4 separate regions of the Homo sapiens genome follow, and regions 1, 3 and 4 are each reported to be linked to region 2. The links are microRNA targets in miRTarBase. Many come from high-throughput screens and were not tested one by one. Region 2 holds a microRNA gene; each other region holds the end of a gene's coding sequence.
Evidence for each region. The annotated mature microRNA hsa-miR-6856-5p reads AAGAGAGGAGCAGUGGUGCUGUGG and lies in region 2 at 893-916, opposite strand. An mRNA with a match to its seed (bases 2 to 7 or 8) in the 3' UTR can be bound and repressed. Matches are read on the target gene's strand: a 7mer-m8 pairs with bases 2 to 8, a 7mer-A1 pairs with bases 2 to 7 and ends in A, and an 8mer does both.

Region 1: the mRNA of ZMIZ2 is a reported target of hsa-miR-6856-5p. Seed matches in the 3' UTR shown: 7mer-m8 at 3,957-3,963 and 7mer-m8 at 3,031-3,037.
Region 3: miRTarBase lists CTDNEP1 as a target of hsa-miR-6856-5p. Seed matches in the 3' UTR shown: 7mer-m8 at 2,552-2,558.
Region 4: miRTarBase lists UNC5CL as a target of hsa-miR-6856-5p. Seed matches in the 3' UTR shown: 7mer-m8 at 4,831-4,837.

What each region holds. Positions count from the first base shown.
Region 1 is chr7:44,764,808-44,772,500 of GRCh38, reverse strand. ZMIZ2 (zinc finger MIZ-type containing 2) reads right to left here. Exons shown (of 19, transcript NM_031449.4): 15 at 7,492-7,560; 16 at 6,922-7,166; 17 at 6,168-6,337; 18 at 5,838-6,080; 19 at 2,620-4,985. The coding sequence ends at 4,878. Among named protein-coding and RNA genes, the nearest start is that of ZMIZ2, 20 kb to the right of the region's middle. RefSeq lists enhancers at 4,017-4,156, 3,991-4,517.
Region 2 is chr9:130,624,218-130,627,217 of GRCh38, reverse strand. It overlaps MIR6856 (microRNA 6856), which reads right to left and starts at 921; the gene lies at 855-921. It overlaps FUBP3 (far upstream element binding protein 3), which reads right to left. Exons shown (of 19, transcript NM_003934.2): 12 at 713-854.
Region 3 is chr17:7,241,508-7,249,112 of GRCh38, forward strand. CTDNEP1 (CTD nuclear envelope phosphatase 1) reads right to left here. Exons shown (of 8, transcript NM_001143775.2): 2 at 5,770-5,836; 3 at 5,557-5,675; 4 at 5,284-5,355; 5 at 4,747-4,863; 6 at 4,519-4,630; 7 at 3,044-3,128; 8 at 2,084-2,738. The coding sequence ends at 2,678. It overlaps GABARAP (GABA type A receptor-associated protein), which reads right to left and starts at 942. Exons shown (of 4, transcript NM_007278.2): 1 at 734-942; 2 at 94-172. The coding sequence starts at 823. RefSeq lists enhancers at 99-650, 651-1,202 and silencers at 815-1,004, 1,595-1,704.
Region 4 is chr6:41,022,734-41,030,426 of GRCh38, forward strand. UNC5CL (unc-5 family C-terminal like) reads right to left here. Exons shown (of 9, transcript NM_173561.3): 8 at 7,655-7,693; 9 at 4,162-5,862. The coding sequence ends at 5,640. It overlaps LOC101929555 (a long non-coding RNA gene), which reads right to left and starts at 547. Exons shown (of 6, transcript NR_110873.1): 1 at 413-547. RefSeq lists enhancers at 4,976-5,045, 5,116-5,315 and a silencer at 5,456-5,565.

The sequences.
Region 1 (7,693 bases), not on the chromosome of region 2:
TGGGATTTTAAACTTGGAACCAGAAGGAGAGTGATCATCACCTCTTTTCTAGGGTGAATCAATGAGAAGTGAGGCTCCGAAGCTTGGATCTCAAGTTCACAGAAGCAGCTGGTTGAGGGTGAAGCTTGCACACAGAGGCCAAGGAAGGATGCCTACCCATGTCCAGCTGCCCCAGGGCCCTTTCAGGACTGCTATTTTGAGCCCCTTCCTTCCTTAACTGGTTTGAATTGGTCACCGTCACTTGCAACCTATTGAGTCCTAGCTAATGTACCATGACAGGGTTCAAGACTTGGTCAGAGAAGAGCTGGGGTATAGGATGCTGGGGAAGGGTACCCATTAATCCTCCCTTCTAAGTGGTAACTGAGAGAATGAACAAGAACAATATACAGTTAAATGAAAATAAAAAGGCACAGTGGCTCAAGCCTATAATCCCAGCACTTTGGGAGGCCGAGGCAGGCAGATCACAAGGTCAGGAGTTCGAGACCAGCCTAACCAACATGGTGAAACCCCATCTCTACTAAAATTACAAGAATTAGCCAGGCGTGATGGCGCGCCACCTGTAATCCCAGCTGCTCAGGAGGCTGAGCAGGAGAATCACTTGAACCCGGGAGGCGGAAGTTGCAGTGAGCTGAGATCATGCCACTGCACTCCAGCCTGGGCGACAGAGCAAGACTCCGTCTTAAAAAAAAAAAAAAAGAAAATAAACACAGACGCTTTAAGGATCAGTTAACAACAAGACACAGACTCTAATATTCACTGACATAAAGTTTCAGAAAGGGCAAAATTAATCTCTGGTGACAGGGGCCAGAACAGTGATGACCTGGGGTGGGGTGTGGGTTGGTCTCTCCTGTGAGGTTTGGAAGGGCAGGTACACACGCGTGTGCACTTACCAAAACCTACTGCACTGTGCATCCGACTGCACTGATGTCCCTGGCTTCTTTGAGGCAACTTGGGTGACAGGCCATCCTGAGCCAGTCATGTCTTGCCCTCCCACTCAGGGCAGGCAGGATGGGCTGTCTCAATGGCCCCCAAAGCCTGGAAGGCTGGAAGGGTGGCAAGGAGGAAACCCACAGTGGGTAGAGTTACAGGGGTCAGAAGTGGGGGCCACTGCCTGCTGGGGAAGGCCACTGGAGGAAGCTGGGGCAGAATGGGAGGGAAGCTGGCCCCTCACATGAATACGGGGAATTAGGAAGTGTTTTCTCCTCCACAATGTTTGGGAGAATTTGGGGATTTATGTCCATTCTTTAGCATTTGGTAGAATTCACCATCTGGTCCTGGGCTTTTCTTTTGTTGGGAAGCTTTTGATGACTGGTTCTACCTATGTGTTTTAGGTTGGTTCAGATTTTTTCCTTTTTCTTCTTTTTTTGAGGTCAGGTCTCTGTCTCTGCCTCATTCCTGGCTGGAGTGCAGTGGTGCTGTCATAGGTCGTTGCAGCTTTGAACTCCTGGGCTCTAGCTATCCTCCTGCTTCAGCCTCCCAAGTAGCTGGGGCTACAGGCACGTGCCATGACACCTGGTTGATTTCTAAAGATTTTGTCGAGGCAGGGTCTCTGTTGCCCAGGCTGGTCTCGAACTCCTGGCCTCAGGCCATCCTCCTAACTAGTTCTCCCCAAGTGCTGGGATCACAGGTGTGAGCCACTGCACCTGGCCCTGTTCAGATTTTCTATTTTTCCTGGGACAATTTTGGTCATTTGTATCTTTCTAGGAATTTTTTTGTTGTTGTTTTGAGACAGAGTCTCACTCTGTCACCCAAGCTGGAGTGCAATGGCATGATCTCAGCTCACTGCAACCTCTGCCTCCTGGGTTCAAGTGATTTTCCTGCCTCAGCCTCGTGAATAGCTGGGATTACAGGTGTGAGCCACCACGCCTGGCTAATTTTTGTGTTTTTAGTAGAGACAGGGTTTCACCACTTTGGCCAGGTTGGTCTCGAACTTCTGACCTCAGGTGATCTGCCTGCCTCGGCCTCCCAAAGTGCCGCGATTACAGGCGTGAGCCACCACACCCAGCCAAGATGTCGCATCTTTTTAAATGTTGGCATTTGCAGCTATAAATTTCCCTCAGAGCAGTTTTTGCCGCATTCCTTAAGTTCTGGTATGTTGTTTTCATCCATCTCTATTTCCTAATTTTTCTCGTGATTTCTCCTTTGACCCTTTGGCTGTTAAAAAGTGTGTTCAATTTCTATGTATGTGTGAATTTTCATTTTCCTTCTGGTATGGATTTCTGGTTTTATTCCATTGTGATTGGAGAAGGTGGTTTGCAGGATTCCGATCTCTAATTTACTGAGACTTGCTTTGTGCACTAACGTGTGGTCTGTCCTGGAGAACGTTCCCTGTGCACTTAGAAACGTGTGTTCTGCTGCTATTGGGTGGAGCACTGTTAAGTCTGGTCAGCCTTTTGGTTTTTATGTAATACTTGGCACATTCACAAGAAAATGTGTGAAACAGAAAGTACGACAAAGTGAAACCCACGAAGCCACCACTGACCCTGAGGTTCAAAACCTCCAGCATCTCTGCTCTTCCCTAAGCACAGCTCCGTCCCCTCCCCACGGGTGAGCACTGTGTTGTACTGACTCCCTGCCCTCCCTGATGACTTTAGCACCTGGGTATGAATTCCACACATATTTGGTTTTGAGCTTTATAAAAATGGCATCATACTGTATGAACTGTCTTGCTTTTTCATCCCACGTTGTTTCTGAGAGGTGTTTGTGATGGAGCACAGGGCCACGGTGCCCATGCATTCCTCAATCATTTCTCCAGTCTTCTGAGGATGGGCTTCTGGGTTGTTTGCAGCCTTTTGCTTGTCCCAGTCTCCTAGTTTCTCCACTCCATCCGGGAGCATCACGTTTGCAACAGGCAGGGCAGGTGGTGCATCAGATGTCCAGGACACAGTCATTTGACACCCAAGAAAGGAGGGCCTGGGGCCTGCATCAGGCCATGGCTGAGTGGGACTTTGCCAGGCTGTCTCCGCACCCAGCGACAGGACTGTGCGTGCTGCTGCTTCTTTTGTTTCCTCCACTTCTGTTCCCTCATCCAGAGAGGGCGGAAGAGCTGGAAACAGAGGCTTTGTCAGGGAATAAGGAAGCCCACCTGTGTGGTCCCAAATGTCGCAGGGGCAACGCTCACACCAGATACCTCCCTCCTCCTCCTCCCTGCAGCCTCTGGGCTCCCACAGACAGATGCCCTCCTCTAGTGCCTCCAGGGGCAGGCCTTGGCCGCCAGCCTGAGGATGCCCAGCGCTCCCCTCCTCCCCTAGGTTCCTGTGTTCCCCCAGTTCTTGCCTCTCCTGCTGGCTGGCTGGGAAGGCCCTCAAGGATGGGGCCCAGGACTGGAGGAAATGGTGACCCGGACCCCCACCAAGCTGGACAGGCAGATGGTAGGCAGGACACACCTCTGCAATCTCTGGGAAGTGACAAGCAGAGGCCTCCCAGGGACAAGAGCTGAGAAGGATGAGCCCCTGGCTGGGCTGGGGCTGCCAAACAACTGTCTCAGTGCCCCAGGGCAAGCCCAGATAAGGTGACATAGTGGCAAATGTCTCTCCTGGGCAAGCCTGGGATGCTTCACAAAACAGCTCTTCAGCTGAAGCCAACTTGGAAAATTCCAGGGAAAAGGAAATTTACTATGGGGCGGGAATAGCCGAGCCTTGGCTTGAAACATCCAGAGCTCAACCTGGGGCCCCAAAAGCCACTTGAAGGTCGACCTGGCCCCCAGGTCCTGCACAAGCTTTGCAGGCACAGCCCAAGCTTTAGGCAGGTCGCTGGCTTACGAGGAGAAAATAGTCCCTGGGAGCACAAAGGAGGGACTCGGCCAGGCCCACCAAGAGGGAGTCCTTTAATAGAGATCGGCACAGACAGGAGACACAACAGCCCAGGCGCCCTGCTCGCACAGGCTGGGGCCCTGAGCCAACAGATGCAGTGGCTTCCTCCTCCCCCACCTGGGTGTGGGCCCATGGGGTGGAGACAGAGAGGTGGCTTTAAAAAACACAGCTGTACTAATTCTTCACTTTCACAGAGAAGGGGAACTTGGGAGCGCAGCCCGCTAGAGAATCTTTACACAGAGCTGAATCTGAGAGCCCACCCACCCACCTCGGCCAGGCCGAAGCTCACTGTCCCCCACCCATTGGAGGTTCCTCCCTGATCTGTCTGCACATGGGAAGGAGCAGAGCGCGCAGGGAGACCGGGCTGTACAACAGGAACATGCTGGCTGGACAGCTGGCTCCCCTCTCCCAGCTGTTAGTGTTTCTACACTATGTACATTGTTGTGCTTTGTAGCTCCCCCACCCCGAGGCCTCTGCTTGAAGCTGGGGTGGGGAGAGGAACCTGACACCACACACGGCTGGGCTGCCAGAGCTCCAGGCCCCCAAGAGGCTGCCATTCAGCGAGGTTCCAAGAGCTGGACTGCTGGGCACAGGGGCCACTGGAGCCAAAGGCCCAGGGGACAGAGCCAGCCCTGCCAGATGCCCAGCTCTGCCCAGTGGAGGAGTTGTTGAAACAGAAGGATCAATGCTGGACAAGAAGCAGGCTGGGTGGGGGCAGGCAGGGGTGGAAGGACAAGGTGTGAGGCTGTGAGACCAGGGGCGTGAGATGTGTGTGTGGACAAGGCTGGACAGGGCTGGGCAGGGGCACCTCAGCAAAAACCGTTCTGCAGCAGCAGGCTTGGCAGAGGGAGGTGGCAAGGGCTGCCGGCCTGGGAGCCCCTCCCATCGAGCACAGGGCTGCTTCCAATTCAGGGGCAGGGCTGGCGGCAGAAGGCTCTGGCTCCAGGTGTGTTTTGGGGGAGGTTTGGGAAAGACCACCGGGTGTCCCATGGGGCTGGGCATGAAGGGCAGGGCTGTGGTGACATCTGTGAGCGTGTCCCCGCCGGGCTTGGGGTAAACACAGGATCAGTTGTTCTCAAACAGAGAAAGCAGGTCGTCATTGTTGTTCGTAGGGAGGTCGGGTGGGCCCAAGTAGGACAGTAGCTCATCAGGGTTGGTCAGTTCCGGGAGCAGCTGAGGACAAAGTGAACTCTGTTAGCAGCTTTGGTCACTGACTGGCCACACCTGAGTGACCATCCTGTCACCACATCCCGGCCCTGTCTCCAGGCACAGTGGGGATGCTGAGCAGCCCCTCCTCACACACAGGCCGGGTGCGGGGCCCCACCATAGGCCTGCATGTGCTCAAAGAGGCACACGCCACCCCCTGGGACCTCCCTGCAAGGTTGCTCTGGGGCCAGAACAGCTGGCAACATGCTGTTCAATACCACCAGGAAACGGGATGTGAGGGAGTGCAGCCACTCCACACTCCCTCTGTGCATCAGCCTGCGTGGGGATCCCCACCGTGATGCCCCAAGGTGAATGCTGGTGGTGGAATTCCATGCCCCTAGGATTTTCTGCTTGGAGCTGTTCTTCCTAACTTTTTCATGTTGAACTTCTAGAATGAGTTTCATGTTGAACTTCTAGAATGAGTTTCTATTATGGTCCAGGGACAGTCAGTTCTGTCCTTCATGTACTGAGTTTGCACTCCCATTCCACCTGTGAGTCAAGACCCAGGGCTACTGAGCAAATGGACAGACGAAATTTGACTCTAAGGACCGTGCTGTCAGCTTCCAGTGCAGTCTCCTCTGAGACTCTGCGTCCGCCCGTACGGCATCCAGGCCCCTCATGAACACAAATGTGGTACATCGCATCCCACCCGCAGCTACTCCAGGTATCTAATTCATGAACAAAAGCTGCATTTAGTTGACCTTATCTGACCGGCTCTCTGAGGGGTCACTGTCTTCCCTTCCAGAACGCACCTGGAACAGACACACCACCTCTAGCCCTGGCTCCCACGCACTCCCCCGCATGGGGCCTGGTACTCACGTCCAGAGCTGGTTCTGGGGCCTCCCCGGCTCCAGACATGCTGGGGGGCCCCATCACGCCTGTGGCAGGACTGAAGGCCAGTTCACCCGTAGGTCCTAAGCTCGCTTGGCCCAAGGACTGCCGGGACGCTGGGGGAGGGTTTGAATGGTGCAGCTGGGGACCTGGAGGGGCCCCAAGGTTGGAGGTGTGTAGTCCTGGTGTCCCAGGATTGTGAGTGGGGTCCAGGTGACCTGCTGGTGCCATCTGAAGACAGAGAGAAGAATTTGTTAAAACAGCTCAGGGGCTCCCCTGGGGAGACAGGGCCCCTTGGCCTCTCGGCTTGGCACTGACCTGGCTTGGGAGGCAGGCGGTAGACTTCTCTGAAGTCAGGAGGCTGCTGGGAATGTCAGACTGGTAGGAGATGGGGGGTGGTCCCGGGGTGAACTCAGCAAGGGTTGGGGTGCTGGGCGTGGTGGGTGGGAAGGACTCAGGGAAAGTTCCAGGCCCCAGGAAGCTGGAACCTGTGAGAGGAGAGTCGGGGCCTGGGTGAGGGCTGGGGAAGGCCACCGCTGGCAGAGGAGCCAGGAGGGAGGCTGGCTGTGGCATGGGTGGGACTTGCAGTGCTCACCCACAAACAACAGCGGGTTTTGCAGAAGTCGCTATTTGGAAAAGGGCATTTCTTCTCATTGCTGCCAAGGGAATTGGCCTTGGGACATTCCTAGGAGTGAAGGTCTCGGAGGTTATAGGAATGGGAGCAGCCACAAACAAACGCACCACGCGTGTGAGGTGGGTCCCAGAGGGGGGCCCCAGATGGGGCCAGTCCTGTGAGGTGTTCCAGCCAGGAGCCCCTTAATCCAAACGGGGAAGGAAGGGTGGAGGCCCCACTGTCTGTTTCCTGGGACCATAGCTGAGACTGTGCCTTCACCGCCACGTCCCTGAGATGGGAGGGGCTGGAGGTGCCCCGCGGCATGTTTTGTGTGGCAACACTGATAACCTAGGTGTGTGACCTGCATAGCCACATTCTTGCAGGTGAGGAGACTGATCTGGGGAGAGGAGCCATATGCCCAGGGTCATCTGAGGTTCAAGGCTAGCCTGCTGTACTTACCCTGGCCAGGGTAGTCGCTGGGGGCAGGGACTGAGGGGGGCTGCAGGGGGGCAAAGGGGGCAGCGCCGGGGCCCAGGGCGGCGATCATCTCCATCACGCTGGGCATGAGCACGTGGGCGGGGCTCACGGTGCGGCAGCGCTTCAGTGCTGGCCCATCCGGCTCCTCCTTGATGTGCATGTCAGGCTTCACGGGCACTGGCTTCCAGCTGCACGTGGGGTCGATGGTGATCTCCTCATAGTCAGAGCTGGGCAGGGACAGGTGGGGAATGGTTACCTCCTGGCCTGCTGCTGGCCCGGCACCCACTGCCCCTCCCAGCCCTGGGCTGTTTCCAGGCAGGTTCCCCCACTCAAATGCTTGCTTCCACCCAGCACCTTCCACATCGAGCAGGACGCTGGGCCCAGCACCAACACTCAGGTAGGACACACACGCTGTCTCTGGCCTGGAATCCAGCCTGCTCCATGCCGGAAAAAGGCTGGAAGGCTGCACTTGGCAAGGGACATCCCCCGACATGTCCTGGGGCTGCCCTCCAGTGGCCACAGATGCAGGGATCACAGGAAGAGGATGCTTACTTCTGAATGTAAATCAGGATGCCCAGCATGTACTGGTCCACCTCCAGGCCCTCCAGCAAAGCTGTCTTGCTGTGGGGAAAAAAAGGGACACAGCTCAGAGACCTTGCACAACCCTGTCCTGGGCACAGGCCCTGTCATTTCTCAGCCCTGTCAGCTGTGACCCTGCATGAGGCAATCCTGTGTGAGGCAACTGAACAAGGTA
Region 2 (3,000 bases):
CCTCGGCCCTGGTCTCAGTAGCCTTTCTGGGTCCCAGGGCTAGCCAAGATGAACTGCTGCCAATGGCTGAGAAATGTGGCTGCTCTCTCCTGGTTCTCAGTGAAGGACAGGAAGGAGCTACAGTAGCCATGAATGAGGGTTTCTTCCTAATGTTCTCCAAAATGCCCAGAAAAAACTAACACATCAATGTTTATTTCCCTCCACAGAGAGTCCGTGACTCACGGTAAATATGCAGAAAGGATAAAAACCATTTTCACATGTTACGCGGATCAAGACCAAATACTCAAACCTGGTAAGGGAAACAAGTGACACACTGTCGAGAAGGAATTTTCACTGAGGATACTGTCTCAACCGTCCCTCTAAGTTCCTTGGAGGTGAGTTAATTACCAATCAGTCGATTGACAAATGCCCCCCATCTTGCGCAAGGTATCTTTTCACCAAGCTAAGCTGCCCTCAACAGGCAGGGAGTTTTACTGCTGTCTCTTCATACTCACCAGAAATAATACACTTTGCTCCTCACAACAGGCCCGTCAGCAGCCTCAGAGAACCATGCCAAGCAGGGTTTCGGCAGAAGGTGGCTACTGCCTCCAGACCGGGCAGCCCCAGCCTGCAGCAGCAAAGGGACCTCACCAAAGGTTCTGGAGGTCCCGTGACCTGCCTTCCCTCAAGCCAAACAGCTGAGGGGGGATGTGAAACCCCAGCTGCCTCTTACCTTTGCCTATGACGAGGCCACACTTATCGGCTGGCACCGTGTATGTTATCTCCTGGACGCCACCAGGGGCTCCCACGCTCCAGTCGCCACGGCCACGACCTCTTCCTCTGGCTGCTGCCAGGCCTCCAAAGCCGTCTCTTTCCTGGAAAGATCACAGGGCTGTAGCGACCTCTGCCACTGCCACAGCACCACTGCTCCTCTCTTTTCCAGGGAGGAGGTTAAGTGACAGGATGTAATCAATGCCACCCATCAGAACCTAGCACCTTTCCACACTTCCCATTCTGAAGGGCTCTTTCAAGCCAGAATTAACACCGATCACAGGTGTATCTGGGGAGGACCTGTGCAGACGAACACACGTGGTTACATAAACAGCTCAAATGTATCCAACAGAAATAGGCAGACACAAACTCCAAGGCTGAAGCCCAGCGGCCTTTCTCCCTGGAGCTTTCCTCACTGGGCCCCGATCTACAGGCATCAAGAACTGCTTTCTCCCTTGCAGCTGAGGCCCCTCTTTCCTGCGGCGGACACATACTGGGCCTATGGGAAGTCAGATATGCACAGCCTGCTGACCCTCCCCAACCAGGCACTGCTATGAGTCACAACACCTGGCACTCCAGTCAGCAAGAAGGATAAACGGATTTTACTCAGTTTTAGAAAACTTCTTGGCTGTTGTGCCCCCAAGCAGCAGCAGCAGTAACAGGTTCAAGAGTGACCATTCAGGGATACTTCAGAAGGGAGGAACAGAGGGAACCTGCCAAGGCCTCCTCCCCATGTGGGGCTGGAGAAGTCTCTGAGGCATTCTCCCACTGTTCACCCAGCAGAGAGAAAAACCTAAATCTAACAGCGGACAGAGGAAGAGCCCTTTCATTGAGACAGCAGCAAGTCTCATTCCAGCCGCTGTCCGCGGAGTCATTTTGGAGCTGCAGTATTTAAACTCTCTTAAATGTGGAGGGTGAACCTGGTCAAGCTAAGAGCTATTTCATGGAAGGGAGAAGCTGCACAGACTTTTCAACACATGAAGAAATGTTGGGCAAAACCTGCTCATGTTGATTAAGAGTAAAGTGAACGTTTACCCAGAATCTAAACCAGCAGAAAGCTGAGACAATTGGAGTGCTTTTCCCCCGCACTCTGCTCTTATGAGACAACTGCCAAGTAAACAAGGCAATTTTAGAATGGATGTTCACACACGCACAGGAGCGCACAGTCAACTTTCTGGGTATGCCACAGATCTCGAAGAAAAGGTTTTCTCCCAAACATCTCGCAGCCTCTGCAGTGCAAGGTTCATAAACTTTTTTTGAGACAGAGTTTTGCTCTTGTTGCCCAGGCGGGAATGCAATGGCAGGATCCTGGCTCACTGCAACCTCCGCTTCCTGGGTTTAAGCAATTCTCCTGCCTCAGCCTCCTGAGTAGCTGAAACTATAGGCATGCGCCACCACGCCCGGCTAATTTTGTATTTTTAGTAGGGACGGGTCTCACCATGTTGGTCTTGAACTCCTGACCTCAGGTGATCCACCTGCCTTGGCATCCCAAAGTGCTAGGATTACAGGCGTGAGCCACCACGTCCAGCTAATTTTGTATTTTCAGCAGAGACAGGGTTTCACCATGTTGGTCAGGCTGGTCTCGAACTCCTGACCTCAGGTGATCCGCTTGCCTCGGCCTCCCAAAATGCTGGGTACAAGAGTGAGCCACCGTGCCTGGCCAAGGTTCATAAACTCTTGCTACAAAAAAAGGATGTTAGAGATCATTTAGAGCAGGGGTGTTCAATCTTTTGGCTTCCCTGGGCCACACTGGAAGAACTGTCTTGGGCCACCCATAAAATACACTAACATTAATGATAGCTGATGAGCTTAAAAACACACACACACACACACACACACACACACACACACACACACAAAATCTTGTAACATTTTAAGAAAGTTTATGAATTTGTGTTGGGCTGCATTCAATGCTGTTCCTGGGCTGCGTGCAGCCCACAGGCTGAACGAGCTTGATTTAGTGGCCGTTTTATAAACTTGTCTAATCTTAAGAATTGCCTGGGTCTCTAGTGAAGACCCAAGACCCTCCCTTGGAAATGCTGATTCAGTAGATCTGGGGTGGGGGCCTACACATTTGTAATTTGAGTAAGAACCACCAGATGGCTCTTAGGGGATCACATAGAGAGCACTGCCTGGTGCAAAGCACCCTGAGTCTGCTGCTGGGAACACCAGACCCAGAGGTTCAAAGGCAGCTCCAAGGTCACATGACTGATGGCAGAGCTGGGACTATAATTTCCAATCTCTTGCTTT
Region 3 (7,605 bases), not on the chromosome of region 2:
CTCAAAAGAACAGCTGCTAGGTGGAGCCTCCTCCCGCAGAGACTGCACTCCCACCCACAGGAAGCAAGCCTGAGTCTTGGATCAGGTTCCCACCTGTGAGATCAGAAGGCACCAGGTATTTCTTTTTGTCCAGGTCTCCTATCCGAGCTTTGGGAGCCTTTTCTACTATCACCTGATAAAGAGATGAAAATTAGGAGACAGAAGGAATGCAGCCCCGAAGCTGCACCTGTCAAGAACTCAAGAAACAATATTCCTAGCACCTAAATCTACCCCAGATTCATCTCTTTGTCTTTGTACACGCGGTGCAGCACTGAGTCCCAGAGATCCTGACCTCACTGACTGGAGCTCATTTAAATATCCAGGATCCATCCCCCAATAGGGCGTCACCATAAACAACTATCTTAATCAGACGGAGGTGACTTGTTTGGGTCGACTAGTGATTCAATCTCGCAACCTTAGCTAGCTGGGGGGATGACCATTTGAAGCTCAGGCTGTCAAACTCTCTAAGGCCTCAAATGCTAAGGTTTCTCTCTCCTGTCCACATCCCTCTCAACCCCACATCCACCACTACCCCACTCCTTTCATCCTGGGTCCCAAGGACAGCAGTTTCAGGCTCGCTGCCAACCCCACCACAGCCAGCAGCCTGATCCCTGCGCTGCCTGTCCCGATCCAAGGCCAGGCTGTGGCGTCAGCGTAAGCGTCCCGCGCCCTCGGCCCTGGCTACTGTCCTCACCGGCACCCGGTCCGGGTATTTCTTTCGGATCTTCTCGCCCTCAGAGCGGCGCTTCTCGAACGGATGCTCTTCTTTGTACACGAACTTCATCCTCCCGGGAACCGGGCTGGACAGGGCTGGGCTGAGGGAACCCAGGGGGGCCGGGACGGGGGGCGGCGACGACGGCGGCGACGCGCGGGCGGATTCAGCGGAGCGATCCACGAATTTGCGCCACTTCCCTATTCACCAACCCCGCCCCCGACTATCGGGGACTGCCCCCCCCGCTAAGATACGCCACTACCTCAGCGGCGCTAACGCTGCTAGCGTAGCACCACCAACTGACCGGCCCCCTCACGCCATTAGCGTAATCGCTTTGGAATCAATTTGTGGGCTACGCAGGCGACGTAGCAAAGACGGTTGGCTTTTGCTCATCGAAAATTACTCTAAACCTATTCCCCAACCGTCCCCTCAAGGAAGCTGGGGCTGAAGAGGAGTAAAAGATGGTAATCATCATACGAGACTTGGTTCTCCAAGTTCCTTTCGTTAACAACGTAGAGGAACAGCAGGGACAATTACAAGGTTAGCTATTCACGAACCGTGTTGCTACGCTGAAGGCGGCCGTTGACACCAAAACAAAGTAGTACCCAAGTGGCGGAGATGATCTCCAGAAATAAGAAGTCAAAAAGAAAACAGATGTTTGGAGAGATCTACAGAACGCTTAAGTGCCAAAATGAGTAGACCAATAGGGACTGGAGAGGAGGTTGGAAAGGTAGGGACTACGCCAGCGCGGAGGAACACTGCGGGACTTGAGTTAAATCATGTGATCTCAAAGAGGGCGGAGCGTCACGTGGCGGGTGCGCGAAGTAGGGCCGGCTTGGGAGGGCGCCGGGGAGGCGGGGCCGGCTGGGCGACAGCTGGGAGGGGGACCGACGCCTTCCCGGACAGCGGAGGTCGGGGCGCCAGCCACCTGGGGGCAGCGCCCGCTTAACCTGTCCACGTCAGTGCCCCGGACGAAGCCCGGTTTCTCCAGCTCTACGCCCTTTGGCCGTCCAGGTTTCTCCTTTCGTGCTTCCATAGCCGGTTTCTCCTTTCGTGCTTCCATAGCCTGCTTCTCCGAAGGTGTCCTTCCACTCCCCACCAGCGCGCCCATCCTGTCACTCGGCCCTTCCCGCCAAAGCATCTGGTGTCAGCATTATTGTATCCCAGGCATCTGGTGTCCGCATTATTCTATCCCTATACTCAACGCCACCTTTCCCCCTGCCCCTTGAGTCCAACAGCAGTCTCTTCCCCCTCTGCCTGTGGGACAGGGTGCATGTGAACAAAGTCCCCTCTCTTCACTTCCCAAAACCCCAGAGAAGGACCTAAGGCCGCTTTGGTTTCAAAGTTATAATGCATGGTTTAAAAGAGAGAAAAGGAAAAAAGACACAAAGCTGGTTACAGGTCTGAGGGAGTCTAAGGAGAGAAAAATAGAGGGAGAGTAAAGGGGGGACAAATTTAGGGAAAATCCAGTGGCCCAAAATCCCAGTATCCCACCCACAGCCCAGCCCTTGGAGCAGGAGTGAAGAATTAGATCAGTTTTGTACAAGAGTTTTTTAAAAAAAATCAAATCACAACAAAGCTGACTTGGCTTCTCTTTGAGCCTCCTGGATCACCGTATGTCTGTCACTCTGGCCAGTCCTGCCTCTTCACAAACACTGATTCGGCTCTCCTAGGCTTCCGCCTGTGTCCCAGTCTGGGGTTTCCATGGAGTGTGAACACGAAGTTAAGAGTGAGGCTGCTTCAGAGCCCCTGGCCCATGTGTCCATCCAGACTCCAAGTGGAGTGTAGGGCTCCCAGGGCAGAGAGGGGTGGGAGGGGCAGACCCTGCCCAGGCAGTCCTCACATTGGACAGGGCATCAGACGGCATCCCAAGGGCTCGCCCTCCCTTTCCCCCCCACCCCAACTCAGGTGGAGGGGGAGCAGCTGTCACCAGAGCCGATGTTGGTGAAGGTTTCGGCTCAGCACGGAACGAACATCAGCGGTGAACCTGGGGTGACAATAACTTGCATTGGTAGAGTACCTTATAGTTCATACCCTCACAACACTCTTGTAAGGCAGCATCACTGGAGATGTGGGACCTAAATTATCACCATATTCATGATTAGATAGGTTCAATTTGCCCACAGCCTACTAGCTAAAGTGATGAGCTTTGAAGTAAGACGACCTGGGTCCAAATGTTAAATTCTTAAGGGAACAGAGTTAAAACAGGACAAACCTTTTTTATTCCCTCTGAGGATCCCCCACCTCCTCCTTTCTTGAGATATCCAAGTGTCCAGAGCCCACTTCCCTTACCTGAGGGCATCCAGCATTGGGAGCAGGTTGAGAAGGGCTGTGTCGCTGGGGTCACTGAACCAGGATTTGATGGGGATGGCATTGTCTAGGGTGGGTGAAAATGCAGATGAGAAGAAACAGAATTCAAGAGAGACGGTGTTTTTCTCTTCTTGGAGGGAAGGAGGAATTATTGTTAAAAATATATGCCTCCCACTACCGGAAGTCAACAACCTAAGTAAAACTTTCCTGGTTTATGCTCCGAAACTAAGTTTTAATCACCAGATCTCATACCTATTGATGCTTCTAGTCAAGCTTACTGCCATTGTGCCTCACTTGAAACACACTTGGCCAGGCGCAGTGGCTCACACCTGTTATCCCAACACTTTGAGAGGCCGAGGTGGGAGGATCACTTGAGCTCAGGAGTTTGAGTCCAGCCTGGGCAACATAATGAGATCCCTTCTCTACTAAAAATCAAAAAATTGGCCAAGGGCAGTGGCTTACGCCTGTAATCCCAGCACTTTGGGAGGCCAAAGCGGACGAATCACGAGGTCAGGAATTCAAGACCAGCCTGGCCAACGTGGTGAAACTCCGTCGCTACTAAAAATACAAAAAATTAGCTGCGCGTGGTGGCAGGTGCCTGTGATCCCAGCTACTTGGGAGGCTGAGGCAGGAGAATTGCTTGAACCTGGAAGTCGGAGGTTGCAGTAAGCCGAGATCACGCCACTGCATTCCAGCCTGGGTGACAGTGCGAGACTCTGTCTCAAAAAAAAATAAAAAATAAAAAAATTAGCTGGGCATGGTGGTGCACGCCTGTAGTCCCAACTACTGAGAGGCTGAGGCAGAAGGATCACTTGAGCCTGGGAGATCGAGGCTGCAGTGAGCTATGATCATGACACTGCACTCCAGCCTGGGAACAGAGTGAGACCCTATCTCAAAAAATAAATAAAAATAAATTTTATTTTTATTTATTTATTATTTATTTTTTTTGAGACGGCGTCTCGCTCTGTCACCCAGGCTGGAGTGCAATGGTGCAATCTCGGCTCACTGCAACCTCCGCCTCCCGGGTTCAAGCGATTCTCCTGCCTCAGCCTCCCGAGTTGCTGGGATTACAGGCGTGCGCCACCACGCCTGGCTAGTTTTTTCTATTTTTAGTAGAGATGGGGTTTCACCATGTTTGTTAGGCTGGTCTCGAACTTCTGACCTCGTGATCCGCCTGCCTCGGCCTCCCAAAGTGCTGGGATTACAAGCATAATCCACCGTGCCCAGCCAAAAATAAATTTTAAAAATGAAAAAAATGATATAAGAAATCCGACTTATGAAATGGACATATATGGTATCTCATTTGAAACACAAAAATAACTTGCATTTCGACTTACAGCAAACTAGGGATAATCTAGGGAATCCCAGCTCTCAAGGACCAAAGCCCAGGTCTCCTGCAAAAATACCTTCTCAGAACCATGTTCTGGTCCTGCCAGACTCACCACCTTCCCCCGTACCTGGATGGCTCCTGTAAGCCCCTGGGGAGTTATCCAGGATCACAATGCTGGAGAGGTCACTGTGGACCACAGAGAGGTCCTTGATGTAGCTGCCCAACTCCAAAGTGCAGTGCTGGAAGGCAGGGGATCATGTAGCAGGCCTCTCTCCAGGATACTCTCCTCAAACCCAGATCCCTCCCTGGTGGCCTCCCTCCCAAGCCACACTCTTAGACTGGGATTCTAGCTTACCTGTCTGTAATATCTCCTCTTAAGAATGCTTCTGCTATTGTCCAGTTTATCTGCCACAGCAGAGCCATAGATCTCCATGCTTGCTGTAAACACCACCAGCTCGTACCACTGGCTCACCTGAAATAGATTGGGGGAGAGGGCGATGCCATACAAGGTGATGATTCCTTTAGACATACAGTTATCTTTCAGAAAGGCAATGGCATAGTCCTTCAGGCCTTCCATCAACATCAAATGTCTCTGAGGACACGAAATTCTGAACCCCCAGCCCAAACCTCCAAACTCAGTGTTAGGCATCCTACACTCTTATGATTCAGAAATGCAAGAACAAAAGAGAAAGATGCCAGCGGAAAAGAATTACATCAGCACAACAAATGAACCCCAAGTACTGAAAGCCACTCCCCTACCATTACACAGCCTCCCCTCTAGAAAACTGCTCTAACCCGTTTCTCCTCACCCCTTCCTCCAAATCCTCCCAATTCCCAGAGCCCTAAAACCATTCCTTCATTACAGAGCTCCCTTTAGCTCTCCAAAACTCACCACTTCCAGGAAGAAATCCACATGGGGCCTCTTATGTACAAAAAACCGGACAGGATGTTTGTCTATTACCACCTACAGAGGAACAAGATGGGCTGGGGGATGTCATGACCACCACAACCCAGGCCTAGAAAACGCCCCACCCATCTGCTTCCCTCCTCCAGGCTGACACTGGTGCCAGCGGATGGAGACAGATGCTCTGGGACTGGGAAAGGGAGTCCAGGTTTGGGCAGAGGAACAGATGGAACCATTTCATCACTCCCCACCACCACACACCTTGAGGATGAAGTCAGGAGGCGTACCAGGCCGGACTGTGGGCCTCAGGACCCCATCATGGTGGGAGTGAATAAGTGTCTCATCCAGATCCAGCACCAGGATCTTCCTCTTCACCTGGGCTGAACCAGAGTGGGGAGGAATAATATTGACCGACCTCTGACCCAGAGCTAGCCCCTACTTCACCCTAAAGGAGGCTTCCCACCACATACTTACCTAGCCGATTCCGGGACACAGGAGATAAGGGGAGGATATCATATCGAACAGTTTGGTACTGAATTACCTACAAATAGCACAAAAGAGGATTGAAACCCTTGATAAGGAAGCCTTCCCCAGTAACAGTAACAGGGAGCACATAATGAACATTTACCACAGGTACTATGTATGTAATTTAGGCTTATTTCTTCTTCTTTTTTTTTTTTTTTTGAGATGGAGTCTCGCTCTGTTGCCCAGGCTGGAGTGCAGCGGCATGATCTCGGCTCACTGCAACCTCCGCCTCCCAGGTTCAAGCAATTCTCCTGCCTCAGCCTCCCTAATAGCTGGGACTACAGGCGTGCACCACCACGCTCGGCTCATTTTTGTATTTCTAGTAGAGGCGGGGTTTAACTATATTGGCCTGGCTGGTCTCAAACTCCTGACCTTGTGATCCTCCTGCCTTTGCCTCCCAAAGTGCTGGGATTACAGGAATGAGCCACTACGCTGGCCTTTTTCATTTAATCCTCAAAACAACCATAATATTACTGTTATACCTGTTTTAAGGTTAAAGAAACTGAGGCCACACAGCTAGGAATTATCTTAAGTTGTTTCTCTCCCTAATTAAAATGAAAACTCCATGAGAATATGATTTTGTCTAGATCATGGCTGTATTCCCAGTGCCTAGAACACAGTAGCAAAAGTGGTCAGTTGATATTAGTAGAATCAGCCAGGCGCAGTGGCTCATGCCTGTAATCCCAGCACTTTGGGAGGCCAAGGCAGGCGGATCACAAGGTCAAGAGACGGAGACCATCCTGGCCAACATGGTGAAACCCCGTCTCTACTAAAAATATAAAAATTAGCTGGGCGTGGTGGTGCGTGCCCATAGCCCCAGCTACTCGGGAGGCTGAGGCAGCAGAGTGGCTTGAACCCAGGAGGCAGAGGTTGCAGTGAGCCGAGATCGCACCACTGTACTCCAGCCTGGTGACAGAGCAAGACTCCGTCGCAAAAAAAAAAAAAAAAAAAAAAAAAAAAGTAGAATCAATGAAGTGATAGAGCCAGGATTGTACCAATGCAGTTCAACCCAAGAACGTGCCCTCTTTTTTTTTCTTTTTTTTTTTTTTGAGAAGGGAGTCTCACTCCATTGCCCAGGCTGGAGTGCAGTGGCGCGATCTCAGCTCACTGCAACCTCCACCTCCCAGGTTCAAGCAATTCTCCTGCCTCAGCCTCCTAAGCAGCTGGGACTATAGGCGCGCGAACCACGCCCAGCTAATTTTTGTATTTTTAGTAGAGACGGGGTTTCACCATATTGGCCAGGCTGGTCTTGAGCTCCTGACCTCATGATCCACCTGCCTCAGCTTCCCAAAGTGCTGGGATTACAGGCAAGAGCCACCACCCCCGGCCGAAGCTGCCCTCTTAACTGTGATATTATCCTGCTACACTGAACAAAGAAACGACCCCCACAACGCAACCTTCACCCCAAGAATTATTTGTAGCAACTACCATCATTGGGAACTAAGTGCCTCAGATTCCCTAGTGCACATGGAGTAGGAGTCGGGAGGAGATCCCTGGGTCCTTAATGGGAATATAGAATGAGGGAATCCAGAGGTTGTCAGGTCAGCTAAGTTCCTCTGGCTAGAAGCCACCAGGCCTATTTTAACCAGCCACCTGTCCACTTCTGTCCCTTCTAGCCAAGTCACAAGTTCAGAGAACCTCAGCCCTCTGAACAGTCTCCTTATCCTGGTACCCAGGGTGAGGCAAAGAACACTGGAAAGCCCCTGCCAGGCTGACTGGCAGGGTCTGGAGGAGGCCAGAGTGAAGTCAGGGCCGTTAAGTGAGAGGTGAATAAGGGACAAGGAC
Region 4 (7,693 bases), not on the chromosome of region 2:
AGGTCTCACAAAAAAAGCATTTCCAGGCTTTGTATTTTACAGACCAATATTTTTGTGTTTTGTTTTTTATTTTGGGGAGGAAAATCCACACAGGATTATTATCTTTTTACTTTACCAAGTAGAGACATTTTAATAAAGCTTTACCATCCTTTCATAAGATAATAGACCTGTTAACACAAGCCAAGTATGAAGTATAATCACAGAATAAAGGACAGTCTTTCCAGGGAAAAATCATCGGCACACTGGATACGGGTCTTTGTTTTACACTATATAGTCCCTCTCTGGCTAGTTTAAGCACAAACAATATATTATGGAGCCCAGATAGATAGTTCACAAATCACTGGAAAGGCTGTAGGGATATACTCCAAGTTGAATTCCATATTAACACCCCAAACTATGCCACGTAACTTACCACTGAGGGAGCTGCTGCCACAGCCGCTGACCACTCTAGCTCCTCAAAATGAGCACCAGCTCTGTGCCCTGTTCAGCTCCCTCCATTATTCCAAATTACCCCTCCATATTCCAAATCAAAGTCCTGCATGAGTCCCAGCTGATTGGCTGAACCTAAGCATATCTAGATCCCCATCTGCCAAGGAGTCTGGGAAACGTAGTTTTAGTTTTCAGCCTCTGCAGTACAGGGAGGCACAGGGGCTGGAGAAGGCATGGAGTGAACCAGTTAGCCACTGTTGGTGAGCTTTTTGTCAGACCACAGCACTTCTAAAACATGTCAAGGTCTAAGCCTGGGTTACAGAATCACATTTGGGTGTACTGGCATGAGAGCCATCCTAAGGAATGTGTGCAGTCACGCTTTATTGAGAAGATTCTGAAGGTCAGTGGTCTTACACAGGCACCTTATCAAGGTTCTGACAGATATGGTGTCTAGTGAGGGCCCTCTTCCTGGTTCTCAGACCACCATCTTCTCATTGTGTGCGCCCATGTGATAAAAAGCAGACAGAAAGGAAGCAAGCTCTCCTGTGTCTCTTCTTATAAGGGTGCTAATGCCATTCATGAGGGCTCCACCTTCATGACCTAATTACCTCCTAAAGGCCCCACTTCCTAATACCATCTTATTGAGGGTTAGGATTTTAACATATGAATTTTAGGGGCATAGAAACATTCAATCCATAGTACATCCTCAGTCTACTCTGCTGCCAGAACCTTGATATGGCACCTACTGAGTGAATGGCTGTTCTTAAGAAGGGAATTTGCTGCCTGAGGCTACAGCATGACCACACTCTGACTGTAGTAGACATCTGTCATATTTGTGGCTTCTCATCAACTTTTGAGTAGCTTTCCCGTATCTGGGGATATTCTCATGTAATAAGTCTCATCTCCCTAATATTGAAGTCAGAGATCGAGTCAGAGTTCAGAGCGTTCAGGTGTCTTTGCAGCTAAGATTCAGGGATGTGGTCTGAGCTCTCACAACCCAAGGCCTCCACTAGAGATTTGATTCAGAAGTGAGTAGCATAAAGAGCAGGCAGTGCACGGAGCTTCTGTTTTTGCTGGCATGGAAGGCAGCAGAGGCCTTAGCTTTCAGAAGTGGTGGTGAGGGGCCGGGCACAGTGGCTCACGCCTGTATTCCCAGCACTTTGGGAGGCCGACGGGGGCCAATCACGAGGTCAAGAGAGCAAGACCATCCTGGCCAACATGGTGAAACCCCGTCTCTACTAAAAATACAAAAAGAAATTAGCCAGGCGTGGTGGCGGGCACCTGTAGTCCCAGCTACTCAGAAGGCTGAGGTAGCAGAATGGCGTGAACCCGGGAGGTGGAGCTTGCAGTGAGCCGAGATCGCACCACTGCACTCCAGCCTGGGTGACAGAGCAAGACTCCATCTCAAAAAAAAAAAAAAAAAATGTGGTGGTGAGGTCTGGTTCCTGCCTCAGAAGTAGCATCAGTGGTGGTGGCAAGAGTGGCTGCAATAAAGTCAAGTTCCTGGTGTCCAGTGCTCAGTAGCAGCAGCCATAGTAATACCAGTTTCCCTCCATGATCTAGCCCTACAGCACAGTTTAGGGCATTGTTCTTGGAAACTTTACCCCAAATCTATTTCTCCACCCTCCAAATGATTGTTTGTCCTTCAGTTTCCTTTATTAAATCCCATCTGCCTCAACTAGCCAGAGTGAATCCTGTTGTCAGCAACCAACAACCCACTTGATGTGCTAGATAAGCCAGGAACACTGACCCTGAATCTACTGCCTCTACACCAGGCTGCAGTGTGAACCATTTCTGCAACAGAGAGTATCGGCCTGAACCTCATCTCCCATTGCCTTCTTGAGTCAGGTACAAAGAAGGATGGGAGGAAAGCGTACTTCCTTCTGACTCCCAGCTTTCCAGGAGCTCCTACAGAACAAGAATGTTTCTTCTTCACTGGATTGTTATCACCAACAATTTGTGCAGGGCTTAGCACAGAGTAGGTATTCAGCAAATGTTTGACGAATTAATAAATAAGTGAATGGTAAAAACACTATAAAGTTATACCCAGCTGGATTCCTAACCCAGATCTGTGCTGTCCATTAACAGTACCCACTAGCCACACATGGCCACTAAACAACTGAAATGTGGCTAGTGCAATTGAGGAACTGAATTTTTATTTTATTTCAGTGAACTAAAATTTAAAAACTGATACCTAATCCCATTTTTGGAAAACTTTTGGCTCATTTGTGTATGTAAATGTACATTTTAGCTATAAATTGTATAAAAGCTGAATACAGATGAAATCTTTCCAATGAAAAATTAGCATACAAATTGAGATGTGGTGTAATTGCAAAGTATACACCAGATTCCAAATAATATAAAAAAGAATGTAAAATATACTATTAATGTTATATTGATTACATGTGGAAATAATATTCTGAATATATTAGGTTAAATGAAACATTAAAGTTGACTTCACCTATTTCTATTTACAATTTTTGATGTGACTACTAGAAAGTGTAAAATTATATATGTGGCTTTCATTGAATTTCTGTTAGCACAGATCTGAACATTAGCATAAATATTGCTCAGTGGTCAAAGGGGATGCCAAGGACACACATTTCCTCTGAGCACTAGAGGCTCCAACCCCACAGACCTAGGCCCAACCTTACCCTTTCATTTCCCCATCGCCTTTCCCCAGACTCCAAATCCAGCAGGAGGAAGTGTAGACGTGGGCCTCTGCAACATGTGAAAAAGCAGAAATCACAAACGCAGTGTTTTTCAGCAGGTGATTTAGGCAACTCTTCATCAGGGAAAGGGCTGGAAGTAAGGCCACAAGCAGTGATCAATTGTTTGCTATTTGAAGGCAATTCAAAAAGAAAAAAAAATCCCCAAGTGAACGTTCCTTGGGTGACCAGTGTGCCACCTCTGCATAAGTCTATGAAATCAAAGGCCCTGGGACAGCCTCTAATATGGTAGCTTCATTCCAAGGAAGAGTTTAAAGCACAAAGAAGAGCTGTTCTAGTTAGTATGAGTCAGGGCTAAATGTTAAGTCTCCTGATGCTCACTGGGGCACACCATCTCTCAGCATTAGGTGCCAATACATAACATGCCAAATGGGTTTGATGTGAGAAAGGAAGTGTCTGCCTTATAGGAATCACTTGGCCTGCATCTACCCCAGGATTTCCAAGCCTCCCTTTGCCAGCACTGGAAACGCATTTTGAGAAATTGGAGTTGGGGCCAGAAAGCATTCTATTCCCATCACTGGAATCTGTGTGGCTTCTATTTGCAACTCCAGTAGATGTGAAACTCTTAAAATGATTTTTTCCAGGGTAGGAAGGAACACAATGATGTCTTTGGCTAAACAGTGCCGGGCTACTGCACAGTTCAATCCTGAGCTAAGTGAAGGGGGAAAAGTCCGGGGCACTAATCTGGCGTGACTGGCAGCACCCGATGGGGTAAGGAGGACAGATGAGAAGGGTAGGAGAGGACTGGTGGGGATAGGGGAACAGGGAAGGGATGGAAAGGCCTGCTTCTGAAGGCTTGCATCTAACAGAAAAGGAAGGGAACCTCCCTGACTTACCATGCGGGACCCAGGTAATTTTCATACTGGAAGCACAATCTACAAAATGCTTCCCTCCAACCCATCCCCATAGGTACAATTTTACCAAATAAAATCATTCATACTCACATCCAAATTTGCCAATCTGAGCAAAATATAGTTAGTAACAAAGGAAGGCAATTTTCATATTTTATCATTCATCATAGAAAAAAAGCTTTAATATTTTTTAATTAAATACAGAAGAAAATTGTGTTGCCAGAGAGATTGTTTGCCTGCCTTTGAACAAATTAACAACACCTGTTTGCAAACAAAAGAATTTCCAGAATGGAGTCAAACCCTTTATTCTCTGTTCAGGACCCAGCCCATTCATGTCTTTTGTATACAGTATCAAACACATAGTAGGTGCTGAATAAGTATCTGCTGACTGAATGGGGTGCCTCTTTTATCCCTATCCTTTATTTCCCAACCCTAAACTGGATCTTGATCCATGGGGAAAATATCCCCACCCATCCATTCCTAGAGTAGCCCTGTCTCTTTCAACAGTCTTTGATACATAACATTGGTTTAGAGACATATGCCTGAAGGGAAAAGAGGGAGGGTTTCAGGCAGAGAAAGAAACACACAAAGACAGGGCACAGAGACTAGGCAGAAACAAAAAGATCTAAGACAGAGAGAGAGAGTAACTGAAACACAGGTGCAGAGCGGGAACAACTGTGGGAGACAGGGACAGAAAAACCAAGTCAGAGAAACTTAAAACGCACACCATTGGAGATAAAGAGATAAAAGGGCTGGGCCAGAATGATCATCTTGAAGTTTCTACTCAGCTTTAATGTTTTCTGATAGAGAAAATGGCAGAGAGAGAGGAAGACACGGCCTAAGCAGGAGGATAAAGAGACAAAGGAAGTTAGTAGAGGCAGAGGCAGCCAGCCAGGCGTGCCTAGCCGGGAAGCCTGGTCCTACCCCGGCCTCACACCCACGGGGATGGGCTCCCATGCCCACTTTCGGCTCCTACCTTAAGTCCAGCCACCCTCTTCCCCTACCCGCCCCTAAAGATCTCCAAACCACTCGGCAAATCAAATCCTCTCTCCCCAACATCCTCCGTGAAGCATTCTCGCTGCTCCAGCCCGCACTCAGCTCTTCCCCTCTCAACTCCTAAAGCCACACCCACCTCCCCTAACCACAGGGCAGGGCTGTTTTCGAGTTTGCCCTTGGCTCCTATGAGCACATCTTGACTCCTGCAAAAGAACTGTGTGCTTGTCAGGGCTCCAGACCCTACCTCCTATATTCCAGTATTCTTCATGACACCAGCCCAATGCCCGGTCTTCCTAAGTGCTCAGTGAATACTTTAGGGCCTGACCGGCCCTAAAGTGCACGCGGGGACCGTGGCCGTCCCCTGGTCAGTTTGGCAGGCTGGCCACGCTGAGGCCATCTCCTGGGCTCCTGCGCCCTCTGCCGGCCAGGAGGGGACCCGCACGCGGGACAGCTCGCGGCCGGAAGGGCGCGCCTGCTGCTGGGAGGCTGGCGAGGACGCGGGCGGCCCTGGCACCGTCCGAGGGTTCTGGGAAGGGTGGTGGGCACAGCCAGGAACAGCTGCTGTGTTCCTCTTAGGCGTAGGAGAACAACCCCTCTCGCCCCTACACCTCCTCCGGCCCTGCCCGCTGGGCGCTCAGAGCTTCTCGTCCAGCTCCAGGCCCTGGTTATCCCGGGCGCCCCCGCGCTCGGGGCCTGGGCTGCCGCCGTGTGTCCCACTCAGGTAGTTCTGGATGGCGGAGGCGCAGTCTAGCCGCTCCATGACGGTCATGAGGTAGTGCAGCTCCTGCAGGCTGCCGTTCTGCTCCTCAAACAACTCCAGGATGGCCGCTGCGGGGCTGCGCTGGCAGGACAGGAACCTGGCCCGAGGTAGGGGAGGAAGAGAAGGGTGTAGGAGCAGGGAGGGGCTCCCCCCCTGCTGCAGGCTCCCTGGGCTGCGCAGCGCAAGGTCCGTCCCTTCCCCATCCTGTAGCTTTTGTCCTTGTCCTGCTCTTGCCTGCCTTCCAGGGCACAGGAGGTGGGAAGCCCCAGGGCTTTGAAACTTGAGATTGTCCTGGCTTGGAGGCCAACTCTGACCCCTACTCCTCTCTAGGCTTCAGTTTCCTCTTATTAAGATGAGGGCTTAGACAAGAGGACCTCTAAGTTTGCTACAGTTCTGATGTTCTGTAATTGCCTTCTCTACCTCCCCCACTCCAAATACACCCCTAGCCTCCCCCTAGCCTCCTAACTCCCTCCTTCCTCCCTCTCTCCTAGGCCACAACATCCTGCTCACTACTAAGGAAACAGTTGCTGTAAACCATGGCTTTTTATCACGACTCTCCCGTCCACTAAAACCTTCCAGAGTCTCTCACCTCCTAACCAGCCCACGCTCCATGAGCCTTTCTGGCTCATCCAGCACCTGGCCTTGCCCTGTCTTTATGCTTTCTCTCCTTTCTCCCATCCTGAACCCCCTTAGCTCAGGCCTCTCTCTTTCTCGCCTTGCACACACTACACCCACAGCCACCTCTGCTACTCCCCAAAACAAAATGGCTGATCTCTTCCCCATCACTTCCTCCCTGAAGCCCTTTCTAGTTCACCCCTCCCAGGTGGAAGAGAACATTCTGCATCCCTCAGTTCAGACTTCTGGTCATAACGCCCGCAGTTCATTATTATTCTTGCTTCAGCTGTTTTCTGTCTCTCTTCAATGTGTTATACAATACTGGATTCTTACAGGAAGGCACAAGGAACACTTGCCTTTATTTTTCAAGCTCTCTGAACCCTTTACTAGTGTGTGCGCTCCTAGGCGCCGGGACCATGCCTCATTCATCTTGTATCATAGTGCTTAGCACAGTTTCCAGGGCATAATAGGTACTTGATAAATGTTTAAATGAATGATTTAAAAATCCACCCTGTAGTTTGCAGACCAGCCTGGCCAACCTGGTGAAACCCCGTCTGTACTAAAAATAAAAAATTAGCTGGACATGGTGGCGTGTGCCTGTAATCCCAGCTACTCGGGAGGCTGAGGCAGGAGAATTACTTGAACCCGGGAGATGGAGGTTGCAGTGAGCCAAGATTGCGCCATTGCACTCCAGCCTGGGCGACAGAGCAAGACTCCGTCTCAAATAATGATAATAATAATAAATAAAAATCCACCCTGTTTTCAGGGTCCAGCTCTAGCCCCATCACCAGGATAAAGTCTTCCCTGACCGCTGCACTCATAGTGTAGTTTCTGGAGCTTAGCTCAGTATTCTCCTGCTTTCTGAGTTCCTTGACAGGGATCATGACTGCACTGTCACCATTATTGATAACATTTATTGAATTAACAAGTGTCAGGCACCCAGCTACATGCTTTACACACATTATCCTATAATCTGTCTTGCTCCTCCTCAGGGCATAGCATGGCAAGCACTCAACATGTACCAAATAACTTCCATGTTAATGGATTCACTGTTAAATGTTAATTGAGCACCTACTATGCACCAGGCATCATTCTAGGTACTGATGATACAGTGATTAATAGAGCTGCCCTTTTATGGGAAATAGGGTGGACAGTAGCCATTCTCTGACTTTTAAGTCACTCCCTTGCCTGTGATCCAGTCTCCAGAGTGTCCTGAGGAACCCCATTCCAGCCCACCCTCCTCTACCATCCACAGACCTCACCCCTCTTCCTACCGGATCTTCATGCCGCAAAGCCCCAGGTGGGAGGCCAGT